Linked DNA regions of Homo sapiens. The protein of the gene in region 1 purifies or fractionates together with the protein of each later gene. This does not show direct contact. Each region holds a gene or a part of one and is shown in the gene's direction. Other genes may lie near its edges. The genes, in order: OLFM1, TXNDC11, TUBA3C and ASPH.

Region 1 (5,413 bases):
TGGGGGCGTTTGTTCCTGGAAGACTTTCGGGAGGGACCCAGGCCTCTATGCTAATCCAGAGCTGTAGATCATGGGCCAGGGAGTGACATGAGGTTGATGGTATCCCATGACATGGCTGTAGACCCCTTCAAGGCCTCCTCCCCGGCCCGGTGGGCTGGGCTGGGCTGGGCTGGGCTGGGCTGGGCTGGGCTGGTGCCCCAAGTCCATTTCTCTGGAGCCGAAACCCAGCCCTGACTTTTCCGGTCCTTGCATCTGCTTCAGGAAGAGAATTCATTAGGCCTTTCTTGTTTTAATGACATCTCATTTGTATTTCATTTGCCATTCCTTTCATGGCTGATGGAGACTCATGTTCCTTTTGATTTAGGAAAGAGGCCATGTTCTTTTTTCCCAGGCTTTTCCCCGCTGGGTGAAACCTCAGAAGAGGAGAGAGAAACAGGCATCATATTTGCCTTTATCTGGGGGGCTGGGTTTTATGTTCGAGCCCCTTTGAAAAATGGGGAGGTGAGGGTGGCTGCCCGACTGATGGTGAGGCCCGGCCTCGCTCGGCCCCTGGGCCCCAGACCCCTGTATACAGGCAGCATGGGCTTGTAGACTCCCTCCAAAGTGAGCACCCTCTGAAGGCTCTCGATGGGGGAGGGAAGCTGTCAGGGCTTCGCTGTCCCTTGATTTGCAAACTGACCTCTGGCTGCCAGAGTGGGCATTTCTCACCCAGCAACCCCTTCCTTCAGGGGTTTGCAGGACACTTAGAAAATAAACACTTAAAAACAAACAACCCAGCTCTGCCCTGGGCCGACTGAGAAAGGCCCTTTGAAATGTGAGATCCTCTAAGCTTTATCTGGAGCGGGTTTGAAGGAAGGGATGGACCCAGCTCTCTCCCCTCTGATTTCTGATCTCTTTGCCTCCCTCCTTCACCATTGCCACCATTTCCACGAAATCTCTTATATTTAAAACATGGGCGGTACGGCCTCTGGCACACTCCTTCCTTCCAGGAAGATGGCTGGGGAGGGGAGGGGGACTGGCAGACTTGCTAGAGCCTGTTGCATGTGTCTTGATCCCCCAGCCTCGCATGGGAGTGGCCCCCGCCCCCATCTGGAAGGGCTGGCCAGACTGCAGAGCCGGGATACAATTGGTGTTGGGTGTTTGTCAGGGAGGTTTTTCTGTCCTGTTTTCTAAATTGTGACAGCTGAGGCTTGGAAGTTTTCTAACAATTTAATTAGCTGTGAAGACTCTGACCACTCTTTTATTCCACATCCCACCTGGAAAACCCCACTTATGTTCAGAGTTAGGAACTTGCTCCTGCCACAGATGTTTTTGTAATGATCATAATACAGAAGAAAACAAGGTGATGCTGGCAGGCACTTAGAAAGCAGGCCCGGGCACAGTGGCTCACACCTGTAATCCCAGCACTTTGGGAGGCTGAGGCGGGCGGATCACCTGAAGTCAGGAGTTTGAGACCATCCTGGCCAACAAGGTGAAACCCCATCTCTCTAAAAATGCAAAAATTAGCCAGGCGTGGTGGCGTGCACCTGTAATCCCAGCGACTCCGGAGGCTGAGGCATAAGAATCGCTTGAACCTGGGAGGCAGAGGTTGCAGTGAGCCGAGATCATGCTACTGCACTCCAGCCTGGGTGATAGAGCGAGGCTCTGTCTCAAAAAAAAAAAAACAAAAAAAACAGCGAGTGTGTCCTGTGTGCAGGTGCTGTCCAAAGCACTTTCTTTTCATGCATTAACTCCCTTAATAGCGGGGGAAGGACGGGGCCTTCATGCAGCCATCTGCGTGCCCTTCCTGCTTTGTCCTCCCTGGGACCTGCCTGCGTCGGGGTCATTGGCATCTCAGTGTGGATGACAAGACTGTTCTCACGCCCAGAGGCAGAAGGGTCTCAGGATCATGGAGTGCCTGTCTGCAGCATGCACTGACACTCCAAGCCGAGTCCCTTATACCACCCTCCCCCTACAAGTGCCCTTCCCACACCTCCCCGCAATCTGGCCCACCCCACTATGCAGAGCAGGAAAACCACCCCACAAACCCACGCTGACCACATTGAGATCTGTGAGCAGGAAGCAGTCACCTCCCTGCTGCAGAGGGCAACCCCAGGGCTGGACTGCTCTGTCTGTATCTAACACCCCCCAGGACTGGACTGCTTTGTCTGTACCTTACACCCCCCAGGGCTGGACTGCTCTGTCTGTATCTAACGCCACACGTGTGTGCCTCTTGACTTCTGTTTTTGTATCACCTTCCTTTGTCGTAGGGAGCACTAGTCAAGTTATCGTTTTTCTAGGTACCAAGGATCTGGGGCTCCTGGAAGCCCCGGCTGTTTGCTTTGCACAGCGCAGCGAGGGTGTGGGTTTGCAAAGCTGTCGCGGTGCTGATGGATGCTTTTGATCATTAGGCATCTATTTTCTGCTTGATGACTGGATCGCCCTCCAGGAAAAGAGGCTCTGATGGTGGGTAGAGTGTGGGGAGAAGAAGCCGCAGGAGAAGGGATCCCTGGCAAGGGGGTGGGGGAGATGGGTGCTGGGGCTGGCAGAGGAGCCACCCGGAGCCTGCTCAGAGCACCCTCGGCTACGGCCATTCCAAGCCATACGCTCAGCACAGCCTCCAACTCCCAGTGTGCTAAGTGACATGTCCCCAGGTCCTGTCATTGATCTAGGCCAGCCGTGGTTTGTTTGTTTTGATCTTTTCCAATCTCCCATTCAGTTTTGATCACACACACAGGAGCCCAATAACTCGCTCCAAAAAAAAAAGAAAAAGAAATCAATGTCGGCTTCAGTGCAGGCTGCCACGGAGGGCATTGTAAGGCAGGTGTGGCCAAGGGCAGAGGGGAGAGGTTCAATGGGGCTGCCTAGTAGAGAGCCCGGCTCAGGGGGACCTGCAGAATCTCTGTGTTCGTGTGACCACAGGAGGGACGGTCCTGAGCCAGCTTCAGGGCCTTGCTAAGCTGTCAGAACAAGGTTAGCTTGGGACGCCTTTGCAGCAGGTCTTTCTGGATTCATTTATTAAGCACTGACTGTATGTCCGGCCTGTGCTGAGCACTGAGAGCCCCCAAGTTCTTCTCAGCAGGAAGCCACCCCTGCGCTTCCCAGGGCACCGGGCCCCACAGCCCCTCCTTTCCTTCCCGCCCGTCCCATTGCCTCAGTGTTGGAGGAGGGAAGGGCTGTGTGGAGGTTGGCCAGCTCTCAACCTGATGCGTGAATGCCCTGCCAGGCTGTGTTCCCACCCACTGGGAGACCACATGAGTTCTGGGACCCCTTCCCCAGCTCGGAGGCTTCTGGCCTGCTCTGACCATGGCCTGCCTTCCAGAGCCCAACATCTGCCTCCTCCTTTCTGACCCGCTTCCTATAAAAGTCTCAGGTCAGCTCACATCAGACACCAGACACCAAAAAGGGGGCCAGCGCTACTCCCACCACCCCAGGAAGTTCATGTTTGAAGGGGTGATATAATTAGGAAAACACTGTCATTTACAAACAGCAGCAAGCTTAGCTTAGCGTTTCAAAGTCCTTTCCCATCATCTAAACAGCGTCAAGGCCATCTAGATATTTTATAAGGATCCCACGGAATCTTTTTTTCCAGAAGGTGGAAATATCCAAAATGCATAAAACCGTGTGGGTGCAGGCAGTGATCCGCCCGCCGCCAGTGGTGCAATAAACATCAACGCCCCTTCCAGTCACTTCTCAGTGTGAGGAGGGACCTTCCCAGGACCGAGAACCGTTGTCTGTTCCCCTTCAGCCTTCACTCCCCAAGTGGAGCCTCCGGCAGAAACTGCCAGCATCCCCCCCACCTCTTTCCCACCACCCATTCAGCTACGGGCCGCTTTAGAGTGTCTTTTCCAGCGGCCCAGGCTCCTTGATGTTAGGAATTCTGTCAGGACGACATGTGACAGATGCTTGCCAAACCAAAGGGAAGTGCCAGCGCGGGCCCAAGTCCCTACGCCAAGACCCCTTAAATAGCATCCGCTTCCCACTTCCCGGGGGCTGCATCAGAGGCATTTGGGACGGCAGTGCCAGATCTGTGCCCATCGTCCAGCTCTACCCTGAACCGAGAGGCCCTCTTCACTGGGAAGCTGATGAAAGTAATCGGGACAGTTAGGAAAATCCCACGTTCTCAGTAAACTGCACCACATGTGGCTGAAATGCGGTGCAGAGGTTCAGACAGCCAGTTTTTCTTATATGGGAAGCTGTGTTGGGCCTCGGTTTCGGAGAAGCCTGGTCCCCTGAAAGCATGGTATTTACAAATGCATTTTGTGTTTGCGTGAGAAGGAAGAACCCACCCGTTGCTTTATCTTTTCCGGCAAAGAAACCCTCATGGGTTGGGGAGGGGATTTGGGCAGGAACTTGGGGCCTTCCAGCCTGTGTCGTCGAATTAGAGTGAGGCTGTGCTCGGGGCAGGGTGGCCTCGCTCGCCGTCTGGCCGCAGGCTCTCAGGGACTGTAGCGCATGGCCCATTGAACTGGAGAAGGATGATCAGTGTGCGAGACCTCCACGACCCCCAGGAGGCCTGAGTCCAGCCCTGACCCCCTGCTTTTCCTAGATCTCGGGGCTGGGAATCTGAACTTTCCTGCCTGTGCTGAGGGTGGGTGTGTTGCGGAGCTTGGGGACATCAGATGTCACCAGTGAGCTCCTGTGTGGGGTCCCTGTGGGTGGCGTGGTTCAGAGCTGGGCACAGAGGTTCGGAGCTGCTCCACACTGGAGTCTGCGTCTCTCTGCTGCCCCTCCCAGCTCTGTGACCTTTAGGATATTCTTTTTTTTTGAGACGGAGTCTTGCTCTGTCGTCAGACTGGAGTGCAGTGGTGCAATCTCAGCTCACTGCAACCTCCGCCTCCCGAATTGAAGCAATTCCCAGGCCTCAGCCTCCCGAGTAGCTGGGATTACAGGCGCATGCCATCACTTCCGGCTATTTTTTTTCTGTGTGTTTTTTAGTAGAGACAGGGTTTCACCACATTGGCCAGGATGATCTCCATCTCCTGACCTCATGATCCACCTACATCGGCCTCCCAAAGTGCTGGGATTACAGGCGTGAGCCACCACGCCCAGCCAGGACATTCTTAACCTTCTGTTCCTTGGGGTCATGATCAGAAAGGGCACACCTGCACAGGGGGCTCTCAGCATACGTTGTGGGGGCAGCACCAGTGGCTCTAATACACCAGGTTTCAGCTCATGGCACACAGCAGCCCGTCCAGCTGTGAATGGAGAGCAGTTAGGTCAGGGAGGGACATGCACTGGCCGCTGATCGCCAAAAGGGCTCCATGGAAAGACGGCACCAGGGGCCACCCGCCCTGTGGGGCTCTCAGTTGGGAGAGGCACCTGCAGAAGAGTCTCTGGTCTCTGCTGTCTAAGGTCCCTGTTCCCTCCAGGCTGCACTGGCCTTCTGTTCCCAGAATGTTCTCTCTGGTCTCCCCTTCCTATGCCTGGGGAA
Region 2 (5,413 bases), on another chromosome or scaffold:
GTGATTTTGGGACTCCATTTTCTTATTCAAAAGAGGATTTTCCTTTTAAGCTTCATTCTACTTCCACAGAGCTATTTTTAGAAGAAGATAAACTAAGCAATCTTTTCTGTGTTTGCTCTTTTTTAGTCGAGCAAAAGATGTGATAATACCAGCAAAGCCACCTGTCAGCTTTTTCTCCTTGAGGTCTCCAGTCCTTGACCTCTTCCAGGGGCAGCTGGATTATGCAGAGTACGTTCGACGGGATTCAGAGGTGGTACTGCTCTTCTTCTATGCCCCTTGGTGTGGACAGTCCATCGCTGCCAGGGCAGAAATTGAGCAAGCAGCAAGTCGGCTTTCAGATCAGGTAATGCTCACATTCAGCTTAAGAATCAAATGACTGTCAGTCCTATATGTAGGGCAGGATGTCCCCACAGAGACACCTTGCCCAACGGGCAGACTTTGCCAAGGTGAACTCCAGGAGTCGTTTCTAAGTTACAGAGCTTTCTATAAAGCAACAGAAAGGATTTCCAATTGTGGCGATTGTACTCCAAGGCAAGTGTGGGAGCAGATTCTGAATCTCATAACACAAGCCAATGCTTATCCTGGGGTGCCATACTGTTTGGTTTCAGCATTGAAAAAGGTAGAGGGACTGAAAATCCTAGTTCTTGCATATCCATTTGATACTTGCTAGTTAGGTATTTTAGGTAAGAAAATGTATGTATGATATGACTGCATTGTAACAAGGCCGACCTTTTTAATATATGGACCAGAACTATATTCAGCAGATAAGGAATGCCACCTTTGGGCTAGGTAAGAAAGATATATAGGCAAATAAGTCACCTGTTATGGCAGTGGTTTTCAGCCCAGTGGACCCCAGTTGTGCTTTAGAAAATAAGTATTTTATGATGTCCCTTTTTCTTCCTAAAAAGGAATTCATAGATGATAAAGTTTTCCTATACATGTAATTTCAAAATAATCTAATGCACGGATTGTAACATAGAGGTGAGGGGGGAAGAAAGTAATTTGTAACTAAATGATATATATTTTAGTATGTAAGTGCACAGTCAGAACAGGTCCATATACCTTTATGTAGAATCACTGAATGGGATAGTTACAAACGTAGACTGATAAAGGTGATATGTTGGTGACTTACCTGCCACATGGACATTGCTCTTAGTAATTGATTATCCTAAATGGTGAACAGTCTTGGTAAAATCCTGAACTATGCAAAGCCCTTTCTGCTCTCAGTTTACATAGAAGTTGCATTCCTGAAAAATTCAGTGAACACAAAAAGCATGCTTTAGATTCACATGTAAAATGGAGCTAGGTACTGGGCTTTGATAATAACAGGTTTTCCCCAACATCAGTGTTTGGCAGGCGTTTTGAACTCCTCTGGAATGCTATGGACGACTCTTCCGTGTGCAAAGCAGGTTTGAGTGTAGCAGGACATCTACCAACACCCCTGCCCTACGTATGCACTGTAGCTTCCCCCAGTCATTGTAGCAAGCCAAAAGCATCCCACAGATTTCTAAGACTCTCCTGCTCAGAACCACTGATGTGAAGTAACGTGTGTAGGCAGCTGAGTTCCAGAAGTTCATTTGGAACTGTCATTTGGTTTTTCTTAGAAACTGTGGAGCCTTCCAAATTTAGAGAACAAAGTTCACGTTGCCCATGTTGGGCACAAGAGGGATATCTATTGTGTTTTATTAATAAGTGTGAATTAGCTACCTTACTGTCAGCCTAAGCAGTATGTCCTTCTGAGTGATGGCATTAGTATAATAATAATGATATTCTGGTGTGCCAGGCCCCATGCCAATTCTCAACCACTTTGCAAGGCGATGCTGTCAGCCCTGTTTTTCTGAAGCAGGACTGCAGGCATAAGGGGTGAAGCAGTTTGTTTACCATCACGTAGTGGTGGGGGTTGTAGTGCAATCCAGGGACTGCTGCTTTTTTTAAAAAAAAAATTTCAGCTCCTTCCAAATTGAGAGCTTACTATTCCATGTACTCAGTAGGGAAAAAAGTGGGTTTATTTTTGGAAACACACAGAAATCTTTTGAACTGTATTGCATGGTAAGATTGGTAAACACGGTCCAAGTCCTGCCTGGACATCATAGATAAGAGTATGTCTTTCTTTTTTGTTTTAGTGATAAATTATGACCTTTGAAAACTCAAAACAGTTTTTTTCATAGTTTCTGTTTCAGTGAGAGAGGAATCATTCTATTTTTAAATTTCATCTTTTAAATCTTGGTAACTTTTCAGTTGTTATTCATAGTCATTTGAAAACCTTTTTTGGCTCTGCAGGTGTTGTTTGTGGCAATTAACTGTTGGTGGAACCAGGGGAAATGCAGAAAACAGAAACACTTCTTTTATTTTCCTGTAATATATCTGTATCATCGGAGGTAAGAACTTTTTAAATAGCGTCTCTCATTCCAGTTTAGTTTGCCAGTTTATAAATGAATTTTGCATTTTTTCTATATTAAAGTATTAGATATTCACTATAGAAAATTCAGATAATACAGATAAGCAAAAATTAAAAAAGAAAGATCTGGATAATCCACCCCCCTTTTTAAAGCTAAACATGGGATCAGGCAGTAATACTATTTCCTAAACTGCTTTTCTCACTTTTTTGAGCATCTTTTCATGTCATTACACATTTTACAGCATTGTTTTTAAAAGTACGAATTACTCCAATGCATTTCAGATATCGTAAGAGTGTTTTGTAAAAATACACAAAATTTCTTATCGTTTCATCTGGAGGCATAGCAGAGTCCAGAGTGTATCTTACCATCTATTCTATTGGGAAGAAAATTACTACAAGTACACAGTCCCATGTCCACAATTCTTTTTTTTTTTTGAGACGGAGTCTCACTCTGTTGCCCAGGCTGGAGTGCAGTGGCGCGATCTCCGCTCACTGCAAGCTCGGCCTCCCGGATTCACGCCATTCTCCTGCCTCAGCCTCCCAAGTAGTTGGGACTACAGGCACCCACCTCCCTGCCCAGCTAATTTTTTTTGTATTTTTAGTAGAGACAGGGTTTTACCGCCCATGTCCACAATTCTAAAGTCACAAAGAGGGCTGAAAAACGGAAAGAGTTTTATTTTATCTTATTTTATTTTATTTTATTTTGAGACAGAGTTTAGCTTTTGTTGCCCAGGCTGGAGTGCAGTGGTGCAATCTCGGCTCACTGCAGCCTCCGCCTCAGGGTTCAAGCCGTTCTCCTGCCTCAGCCTCCCGAGTAGCTGGGATTACAGGTGCCTGCCACCACGCCCGGCTAATTTTTGTATTCTTAGTAGAGACGGGGTTTTACCATGTTGCCAGGCTGGTCTCGACCTAGGCTGTACTAGAGTACAGCCCAGACCCTGCTGTGAATGATAAGTAATGTCTAAAAATCTGACTCAAAGAGTTTTGGAGATAGGAGATAGGACTTTGGACTTTGTTCAGGGTGATTGGCTTGAAGTTTGTTGAAAGTAAAATGGGTAAAGGAGATTTGATCAGTAGAGAGCTTTCCTTTTTCCTTCTAAAGTTCTTGGGCCATAATCAATGGGGATTTATAGCAAACATGCACAAACAGTGATTTGTGGGTTCTCTGTCACATTCCATCCCATTTCCGTGTCTGTAACATAAACTGTTGTCTGGCACATAGTATTGACTCCCAGGAACTATTAGGTAGTATTTGGGCAAAAACACACTTTTCTACCCCATCTCTACCCCCACATTTTCCTCTGGATATTAGATGTTTGTATTTTAATATTTGTAGTAAGAAGCCAGTTTTTGCTTAGGGACCACTAAGACCATTTTCAGATTTCTTCCCCACTTTTTGGCCAGTAACTTGGAGGTTCTGCCTTTACATGGAAGGTTCAAGTACAGGTTTTTTCGGATACAGGAATACTTTCTCAGAGTTACTGTTTTTGTTTTAAAGGTAAGTGTAAGGTGGTGTACTTAACTCTGTGCTCTGTAACGGGATGGTGAGCTTGCCCTGCTGAGGTCCTTGCATTTCTTTTTGGCTTTGAAAAAAGGCATGGAAGCCTAGTGGGGGGGTGTAGTCCTTTCAGACTGCTCAGAGGTGGACATAACGTGATGTGACATTAAAATCAGAAGAGTTCCATGGAATCAAGTACAAGTGTCATTTTGGGATATGCAGGTATACAGTATTGTCATATATATACTATTTGCTTGCTTAGCTTTTGCAGAAAGATTGAAGGGACCTCAAAGGAACTTTAGAAATGTGTCCAACCTTCTTATTTTACAGATGAGGAATTTGAGGTGGTACGCACCTTGAAATGCCCGCCTCCACACCCCTGTCTTTGCATTGTTAGCTTTTACAAGTCACTAGAACCCTTGTAACATCACAACAGGAAAACTCATCAAAGCCTCTTGGCCTGAGTGGTTGAGGTTTCCAGATTGGTAGCTCCTTTTTCTGGAACAAAATAAGTTAGATGCTTTTTTGATTTCTTCCTTTAAATTAAAAATTATTGGTGGTTGATGGGGTTGGTGGTGGTGGTAATTTTTAAACGGAACTAATTTGTAGTAAGTCTTGATTTGGTAGAATTATTAACTGTGTCCCAGCTGTACATGTAGAGAACGCTGTTTTTCACTTTTTTTCATGCTAATATTCCTTTAACATCATTCTGCAGTGCACATGGAAGAATTGTGTTTATCCCATCACGTGTGTGTGTGTGTGTGTGTGTGTGTGTGAATTTCTGTAACCATGTATTATGGTATTATAATCACAGCCTTTATAAAATTCTTCACTGGGCTCTTGTTGCTGTTAACAGTAAGCTTAATGTCAATTTCTGTTTAGAGAAAAGAACGATTATGCAGTTGTTGAATTTCACCATAACCCCCCAACCCTTGCCACCTACCATCCAATTATATTTGGGCAGTGTCTGTATTGTGTGAGACTGAAGAGAGGCACGTGAGAATTCTGATTAGCTTAGGAGGATAACTGAATAGTGGTGGTATCACTTAGCGGCACTGAATCCAATTCTATGTGTCCCCAGGCACAACTGGAGGGGAAAGGAAGAAAGATTATTTAAACAGGTCACTGACTTCAGACCTTCACATAATTTGTTATTGTTGTAATAAAGCTTCAAATAGGTTTAAGGTTCATTCAGTGATCCTTTGTCTGCCTGTTTCTTTTTAGTAGGCCAAGGGCTGACTGTTCAACCTGTCCCTTACCTCACAGTGACTAGTAGAAGGAAAGTCTGCCCGCCTGCGTTGAATTGTATAGTTAAATCCTGGAATCCCTTAGCATGTGGTCAATTTCCAGGGTTGTCTCTCTGTTTTGTTTTTAAAAGAACTACTGTGGGAATTAATTTTTTTTTCAGAGATAAGAGTAAATGTTCCTTGTTTGGCAATTCAGTTTGCAGTTGAATTCAAGATCATAGAAGGGTAGGGGCTGCTTGTGCCTCTCCTCACCCAAAATGCTTGTTCTTA
Region 3 (2,777 bases), on another chromosome or scaffold:
AAAATTGGATGGGCATGGTGGCCCATGCCTATAATCCAGCACTTTGGGAGGCCAAGGCAGGCGGATCACCTGAGGTCAGGAGTTTGACACCAGCCTGGCCAACAGGGCAAAATCCCGTGTCTACTAAAAATACAAAAATTAGCCGGGTATGGTGGCGGGCACCTGTAATCCCAGCTACTGAGGAGGCTGAGGCAGGAGAATCACTGGGACCCAGGAGGTGGAGGTTGCAGTGAGAAGATATCACTCCACTGCACTCCAGCCTGGGTGACAGCACAAGACTCTGTCTCAAAAAAAGAAAAAAAGACAAGATCATACAAATTCTAGGCCTTACAGGTTACACGACCTCTGTCACACCTACCCCACTCTGCTGTCGGATAGCAAAATCAATCTGCAAATGAAGGGGTGTGGTGGCTGTGTTCAGACAAGATCTTACAAAATTAGGTGGCTAGTCCAGCAGCTGTGCTAACCCCTGAAGGAGAAGAAGAGACACCCACAGTAGGAAATCCCAGTCAGAACTGACTGCAGTGGTCTCCCCCAACAGAGACGGTGGGGGTCTGAGCCAGAGGCAGCAGGGAAAGCACAGCACAAGAACGCACAGGCCCAACAGAGAAATGCCACAAGATTTAGTAACCAACTATTGATAAAGCTGAAAGAGGACAGCAAGGTTTCTTTTGTGTCAGTGGAAGGTGGGGACAGATTTTGTGTCTGAGGCAAACCCAGGCCAAAATTACTAGGCTTCCCGGAAAAGAAATAAAGACGTTGCTGCTTTTTGTTTTGTTTTGTTTTGTTTTGTTTTTGAGACGGAGTCTTGCTGTGTCGCCCAGGCTGGAGTGCAGTGGCGTGATCTTGGCTCACTGCAAGCTCCGCCTCCTGGGTTCATGCCATTCTCCCGCCTCAGCCTCCCGAGTAGCTGGGACTACAGGCGCCCGCCACCACACCCGGCTAATTTTGTTTTTGTATTTTTAGTAGAGACCGGGTTTCACCATGTTAGCTAGGATGGTCTCGATCTCCTGACCTCGTGATCTGTCCACCTCGGCCTGCCAAAGTGCTGGGATTACAGGTGTGGGTCACCGTGCCCGGCCTTTTAATTTTTTTGAGACAGGGTCTTGCTCTGTCACCCAAGGAGTGGTAGGATCTCAGCTCATTGGAACCTCTGCCCTCCAGGCTCAAGCAATCCTCCCACCTCAGCCTCCTGAGTAGCTGGGACCACAGGTGCATGACACCATGCCCAGCTAATTTTTTTGTATTTTTGGTAGAGACAGGGTCTTGCCATACTGCCCAGGCTGGTCTCAAACTCAGTTCAAGAAATCCACCTTGGCCTCCCAAAGAGCTGGGATAATGGGTGTGAGCCACTGCACCTGTTGCTGTTTTCATCACAAACAACTCATTCTTTTTTTAAATCAAACCCTACATGAGACAGTGGAACGAATGATGTTGTGAAGCAGTTTATAGTAATGCCCAAGTTAAAATAAAATATATACACCACCTACAAGATTCCCCAAAATGCCCATAAAATTACTAAGTTCAACCTACCTTTTCCACATGAATTCTACCACCCAAGAAAGGGGCACAAAAATCCTTTAGAAAATACCTTATTCTTAAAAAAAAAAAAAAATGCTGGGCATGCTGCCTCATGACTGTAATCCTAGCACTTTGGGAGGCTGGGGTGGGTGGATCGATTGGGCCCAGGAGTTTGAGGCCAGCCTGGGCAACATATGTTGTCTGGAACTGTCACCCTGCCTGGCACAGAGAAGGGCTTAGTGACATTTGTGGGGTGAACTGAGAATTCTCCTGTTCACCTACAGGGTGTCTTCTTTTTGAGGAAAAGCAGCCACCATTTCCAGGTTTGATATAAGCTTCATGGACTGTTTCTTCCTCTTCTCCGGCAGGTGGGCATTAACTACCAGCCCCCCACGGTGGTCCCTGGGGGAGACCTGGCCAAGGTGCAGCGGGCTGTGTGCATGCTGAGCAACACCACGGCCATCGCGGAGGCCTGGGCTCGCCTGGACCATAAGTTCGATCTCATGTATGCCAAGCGGGCCTTTGTGCACTGGTACGTGGGAGAAGGCATGGAGGAGGGGGAGTTCTCTGAGGCCCGCGAGGACCTGGCAGCTCTGGAGAAGGATTATGAAGAGGTGGGCGTGGATTCCGTGGAAGCCGAGGCTGAAGAAGGTGAAGAATACTGAGGGGAGGGTGTGGTGGGTTCTCCACTCCACTGCCACCCCCAGCGTGGCTGCTTTCAAGTTCTTTGCAATTAAAGGTTCTGTATAAAACCAAGACCTCTGTGTATCGTACTGCCTAGCTTTGCCTGCAGGAGCAGGTGGGACCCCCAGAGCCTGCATGGACAGTGGTGGGGTGCCAGCCTGCCCTGCTAGCATGGAGTTGGGTGCAGCGGGATGGTACATACTTAAGGAGCTGCCACAGAAGTAACTTGACACGGAGAAATAGATTTCCTAAATTCTAGGAAAGCACAGTCAGGGTTTTCAACTGAATTTGCAACTTTGGGGGCTTTTCTATTGATGGGTGATGCGAGCTACAAAGAAGAGTCTAGACATGGAGTGTTTAAATCTGAGGTCTGTGGATGGGGCTTGTCCATGAAATCCCTAAAGCTGTGGGTCAAATGTGTAAGGTCAGGACATTTTAGAAGGGAAAGAGTGTTACTGTGTTCTGCACAGCATTCGTGACCCATAGAAGGTTACAACACACCCAGCCTTCCACAGTAACCTGGAAGACAGCATTTGCCCTCCGTGCACACACACGGCCACTCTGCCCCTCAG
Region 4 (5,413 bases), on another chromosome or scaffold:
TGGGCATAGTGGCACGTGCCTGTAATTCCAGCTACTCGGGAGGCTGAGGTAGGAGAATCACTTGAACCCAGGAGGCAGAGATTGCAGTGAGCCGAGATCATGCCACTGCACTCCAGCCTGGGCAACAGAGCGAGACTGTCAAAAAAAAAAAAAAAAAGAAAGAAAGAAAGAAAATAATAAGTGTGATGGCAAGTACTATCGTAGCTTATGCTGAAGCAGGATGGCATCCATGTCAGGTGCTGTGGTTCAGAAATAGAGGAGAAGAATTCTGGAGTGGAAGGGACAGGGGCGGACGTCATAGGGAGGGAGGTGAGTGACCAGTTTGCTTAGCCACATTGAGAACTCAGATTCAGAGAAAAAGGTGATGAATATCTGGCTCAGTAAAGATTTAGCCGTTGTCTAGTTAGCAAATCATGCTGCTGGGTAGTCGAATGCCTAAGGCTGATGCTGGAAGTTTTGGGAAGTAAAATTACGGTAGGTCTCTTCTATGGACTGAACTGTGTACCCCGCAAAATTCATATGTTGAAGCCCTAACCCCCAGTGTGACTGTATTTGGTGATAGGGCCTTTAAGGAGATAGTTAAGATTAAATGAGGTCATAAGGATGAGGCCCTGACCCAATATAACTGATTCCCTGATAAGAAGCGGAAGAAACACTGGGTGTGTTAGTCTGTTCTCACACTGCTATGAAGAAACACTAGGTAATTTATACCAAAAAGAGGTTTAATTGACACATAATTCCACATGACTGGGGAGGCCTCAGGAAACTTACAATCATGGTGGAAGGCACCTCTTCACAGGACAGCAGGAGAGAGAATAAGTACCAAGTGAAGGGGGAAGCCCCTTATAAAACCATCAGATCTCGTGAGAACTAACTCACTATCATGAGAACAGGATGGGGAAAACCACCCCCATGATTCAGTTATCTCCACCTGGTCCCTCCCATGACACATGGGGATTATGGGAACTATAATTCAAGATGAGATTTGGGTGGGGATGCAGCCAAACCATATCACTAGGGATGAGAAAATGACGTGTGAGGACACAAGAAGAAGGTGGCCACCTAGGAGCCAAGAAAAGAGGCCTCAGGAGAAACCAAGCCTGGCCACACCTTAATTTTGGACTTTCAGCCTCCAGAACTGTGAGAAAATACACTTCTGTTGTTTAAGCCACTCAGTCTGTGGTATTTGCTTGTGGCAGCCCTAGCGAACTGATACAGTATCCAAGTAGTTTCATTAGGACTGAACTATGTTTTTTTAAAGGACTGGCTTTTTAGAGTTGAAGGAAAAAACCAGAATCAGCAAATATAAATAATGATTTTGTTCCCCAAAAATAACTTTTTAAATTGTTATGTGAATATTATGGAACGTCTATTTTGCTCTTATCTTAATAAGTGCCACCAACAGTGATTAAAATATGCCACACATGTGCAGTCATTTTTTTCTTCCAGAGCCCATGGGAAAGGTGCTAACTGACCCCAACAGCCTTTCTGAATAAGCTGAGGCTGAACCTCTAAGTCCTTCTCAACGCAGTGTTCTAGGTGGCTGCTAGCAACTGATCAGAATTGTCATGCAAGATGGAACCTGTTGTTGCCCCAGAAGCAGAGCCTTGAAATTTATAAAAGATACAACCCAGGATATCAGTTCCATGAATAGCCCTCACAAAGTATATTCATGTGTAAGAAGTGATAAATTTAAATGATTCTTCCAGATTTGCATTGGCTGTTAGATCTCTTTCTAGAGCTATTTTCCCAAAGAAGCAAGGTTTATTACTTCTTGAGGGTTAGTTTAACGCTGGTGAGAAATAATCAAACGACAACAAAGCCACAGTGAGTTGCAGATGCTGGGCATTCCTCTTCAGGCTGAGTTAACTGGTTTGCTCCTGCACAGCTGCCTTCTAACTTACAATGCAACAAAATGAGAAATTATGCTTTAAAGCATAGGCTTTGGAAACCAACAATCCTAGGTTAGAGTCCTGGATGCACCGCTTGTTAGCTGTGTGATGTGTGCATGTCCCTGAATCTCTGAGCTTCAAATCCCTCATCTGAAAAATGGCAAATAGTGCCTCAAGTATGGGGTTGTTACTAGGATCAGTGAGCACTAGATGAAAGACTTGGCACAGTTATCCAATATATGATAGTAATATTATATTTTTATGGTCTAACAATAGCACATGATGTAATAACAGTAGTGGAGAGGTGGTCTCTGGTCTGGTTAAGAGCATGAACACTGGGTCCAGTCTGGCTGAATTGAAATTCCTGCTCTGCTGTTCGCTATGTGACCCCTCTGTGGCTCAATTGCCTTTCTATAAAATACAACACTAATTGAGCCTTCTTATGACATGTTGTAGACATCAAATGAGGCACTCTCATCATGCAGAGTGGTTCCTGGCCTGTCGTGAGCATCAAGGAACTGCCGTTGCATTCCTTGGACCCTCATGATCAGACGTGAAGAGTTAAAATGACCAGTGACAGTGCATGAATGCCCAGAGTCTACTGCACAGAGAATCTGGGTTTACAGACCAGAAAGATAAATGTGTCTAAAGAGCTAGAGGTGTTCTCTAATTCCTTGAAAATCTCAGGGACACAACCCATTTGGTTACCCATTCATCACCTGTCATTCAGGTAAGGCACATCTGTTCTCCAGGTAGCACATGCTCAGCCACCTGGTGCTTGTGAGAACTCCAGGCCACCTATGGTTGTTCCCCAAGCCACCAGTTTCACTTAACTGCTGCCTGGACAGCACAGAGCTCAGAATTGGGGACTCCTGCCAAGCAGCCCCAGGCCCTGCATACCAGAAGACTTGGAAAGCCCAGGCTCAAAAACACTTTACGGTGACTCGTAGGTTTATGTAATATTCACCCAAACTGACATTTATTGTTCATTTGGGGAACTCCATTAATAACTAAAAATAGCAATTAACATTTTATTCAATTAAGAGCCAAAAAGGTTACTTAGAAAAAGCTAAGTTGTTTTCTAAAACATTGAGCTCCATTTGATTGGGGTGAATACCTTTTAGTTGCGTTTTTTGTAACTCTTATTTTATTCTCAGTATGTGATTATCTTAGGACACAATTAACATTAATTAAATAAAATTAAACTCAGCTTTAGATGTAGCAGTCTCTTTTAGGAATCTTGAATAGGGAATTAAAATGTCTCTGACTTTTAAAAATCCCATTGTTTTACTCCCCCGTTAGAGCAGATGACATTGTGTACATTCTGAGCACATCTTCCCTAATAAGCAGGGGCTTTATAGAGTGTAAAGAAATTTGCATAGTTCAGGATACTTAAATGACATGTCCCAGAATCTGTGCTCTTGACAGTTAATCATAGAATATGTCCCCTCTCAAAGACGCCTTCTTCATTTAAATCCTATTCTTTATCATCATATAAAGGATGATCTGGATATGGAAAAGACATTGAAGTCCAATAAAAATAGTGTTTTGGCAACTAATATAGTCCTAGAAATGCATTTCTAAGTTAGAAATATAATATAAGCTATTTTCCTTCTTTAGGGGATGTATTAGTTTCCTGTGGCTGGTGTAACAAATTACCACAAAACTTAATAGCTTAAAACACAGACACATTTATTATCTTATAGTTCTAGAGGTCAGAAGTCTACAATAGATCACACTGAGCTAAAATACAAGTGTCACCAGGGCTGTATTCCCTCTGGAGTCTCCAGCTTCTAGAGGCTGCCCACATTCCCCGGCTTGTGGCCCCCTTCCATCTTCAGAGCCAGCAGTGGCCAGTCAAGTCTTTCTCATACTGTATCACTCTGACACTTACTCATCTGCCTCCTCCCACATTTAAGGATGCTGTGATTACCTTGGGCCCATCCAGGTAATCTTGGATAATCTCCCTATTTTAATGTGAGCTGATAAGAAATCTCAGTGCCACTTACAGCCTTAATTCCCTCTTGCATGAAAGACAACATATTCACAGGTTATGGGATGAGGGTATGGACATCTTTTGGGAGCTAACTATTATTTTTCCTGTCACAGGGGAAAAAATAAGTACAGTTGGCCTTTGAACAACGTGAATTTGAATGTTATGGGTCCGCTTATGTAAGAATTTTTGTCAATATATTGGAAATTTTTTTGAGATTTGTGGCAATCTGAAAAAAATTTGCAGATGAACCTTATAGCCTGGAAATATTTTTTAAAATTAAGAAAAATTAGGTATGTCATGAATGCATGAAATATATATAGGTACTAATCTATTGTATCATTTACTATATATATACAAATCTATTATAAAGAAATAAAATTTATCAACATATGCATGGAAGCACTTACAGACCATACATAGCACCATTCATAGTCAAGAGAAATGTAAACAAACATGAAGATGCAGTGTTAAATCATAACTCCATTAAATTAACTGTAGTACAGATTATACTACTGTAATAATTTCATAGCTGCTTCCTGTTGCTATTCGGCAAGCTCAAGTGTTTTCAGTATCTGCTTAAAATACCATGTGATACTGTCGTCTCCATGTGAGCAGTTCCTCTCTCTGGTAAATTGCATATCACGGTGAAAAGTGGTCTCTTATGGTTCTTGTGTATTTTTCCTTGTGTTTAATGCAATGCTGCAAACCTCGAATAACACCATGGGACCTATACAAAGAGCAACTAATGATGATGGACACGCTGCCAAGAAGCAGAGAAAAGTCATGACCCTACAAGAAAAAGTTGAATTGATTGATATGTACTGTAGATTAAGGTCTGTACCTGTAGTTGCAGGCCATTTCAGACATTCAATTCATCTTGTAAACAGATGATGTAAACTTATGGTATCGATAAAATACCGTACAGTACTGTAAAAGTATTTTCTCTTCCTTATTATTTTCTTAATACCATTTTCTTTTTTTCAGCTTACTTTAGTGTAAGACTATAGTATAGAATACATATAACATACAAAATATGTTAATCAACTATTTATGATATAGGGTAAGGCTTCCAGTCAACAGTAGGCTATTAGTTGTTAAGTTTTTGGGGAGTCAAAACTTAACATGCATGGAGGATCGAAGCCCCTAATCCCTGTGTTATTCAAGGTCAAAGGCCTTTAACCTGTGTCTTGTCTGTTAGACATTCTTAGTCAAATAGTCCAACACCGAGTGAAGAATTTGGATCCCTGCTCTGCCAGTCACTACCTATTGGAGCAAGACACGTCTTCTTTATTGATAAATTTTTATTTATTTCCAATAAGCCTTTTGCATTCCTACTTCATCTTCTCATGTTTACTCAATCTTCTCATTCCTGCAGTGAGGATGACATATAGCTCTCACCTCATCTAAATGGGATAAGTTTAAGCTTTACTGTGATTTGTTTCCAACAATTATGTTATTTATTCTAGGAAGAAGAAATGAAAATGCCTGCAAAGGAGCTCCTAAAACCTGTACCTTACTAGAAAAG

What was found.
Region 2: the proteins of OLFM1 (region 1) and TXNDC11 purify together in Homo sapiens (affinity purification with mass spectrometry, with the first as the bait; one large-scale study listed by BioGRID). This does not show direct contact.
Region 3: the proteins of OLFM1 (region 1) and TUBA3C purify together in Homo sapiens (affinity purification with mass spectrometry, with the first as the bait; 3 studies listed by BioGRID). This does not show direct contact.
Region 4: the proteins of OLFM1 (region 1) and ASPH purify together in Homo sapiens (affinity purification with mass spectrometry; 3 studies listed by BioGRID and IntAct, with this or other methods). This does not show direct contact.

What each region holds. Positions count from the first base shown.
Region 1 is NC_000009.12:135,106,982-135,112,394, forward strand, and holds part of OLFM1 (noelin isoform 4 precursor), read left to right. Parts: intron 1-5,413. UniProt on the Homo sapiens protein: Contributes to the regulation of axonal growth in the embryonic and adult central nervous system by inhibiting interactions between RTN4R and LINGO1. Inhibits RTN4R-mediated axon growth cone collapse.
Region 2 is NC_000016.10:11,730,947-11,736,359, reverse strand, and holds part of TXNDC11 (thioredoxin domain-containing protein 11), read left to right. Parts: intron 1-126; coding exon 127-343; intron 344-2,280; coding exon 2,281-2,378; intron 2,379-5,413. UniProt on the Homo sapiens protein: May act as a redox regulator involved in DUOX proteins folding. The interaction with DUOX1 and DUOX2 suggest that it belongs to a multiprotein complex constituting the thyroid H(2)O(2) generating system.
Region 3 is NC_000013.11:19,173,272-19,176,048, reverse strand, and holds the end of TUBA3C (tubulin alpha-3C chain), read left to right. Parts: intron 1-1,889; coding exon 1,890-2,186; 3' UTR 2,187-2,277; downstream 2,278-2,777. UniProt on the Homo sapiens protein: Tubulin is the major constituent of microtubules, a cylinder consisting of laterally associated linear protofilaments composed of alpha- and beta-tubulin heterodimers.
Region 4 is NC_000008.11:61,518,065-61,523,477, reverse strand, and holds part of ASPH (aspartyl/asparaginyl beta-hydroxylase), read left to right. Parts: intron 1-5,354; coding exon 5,355-5,413.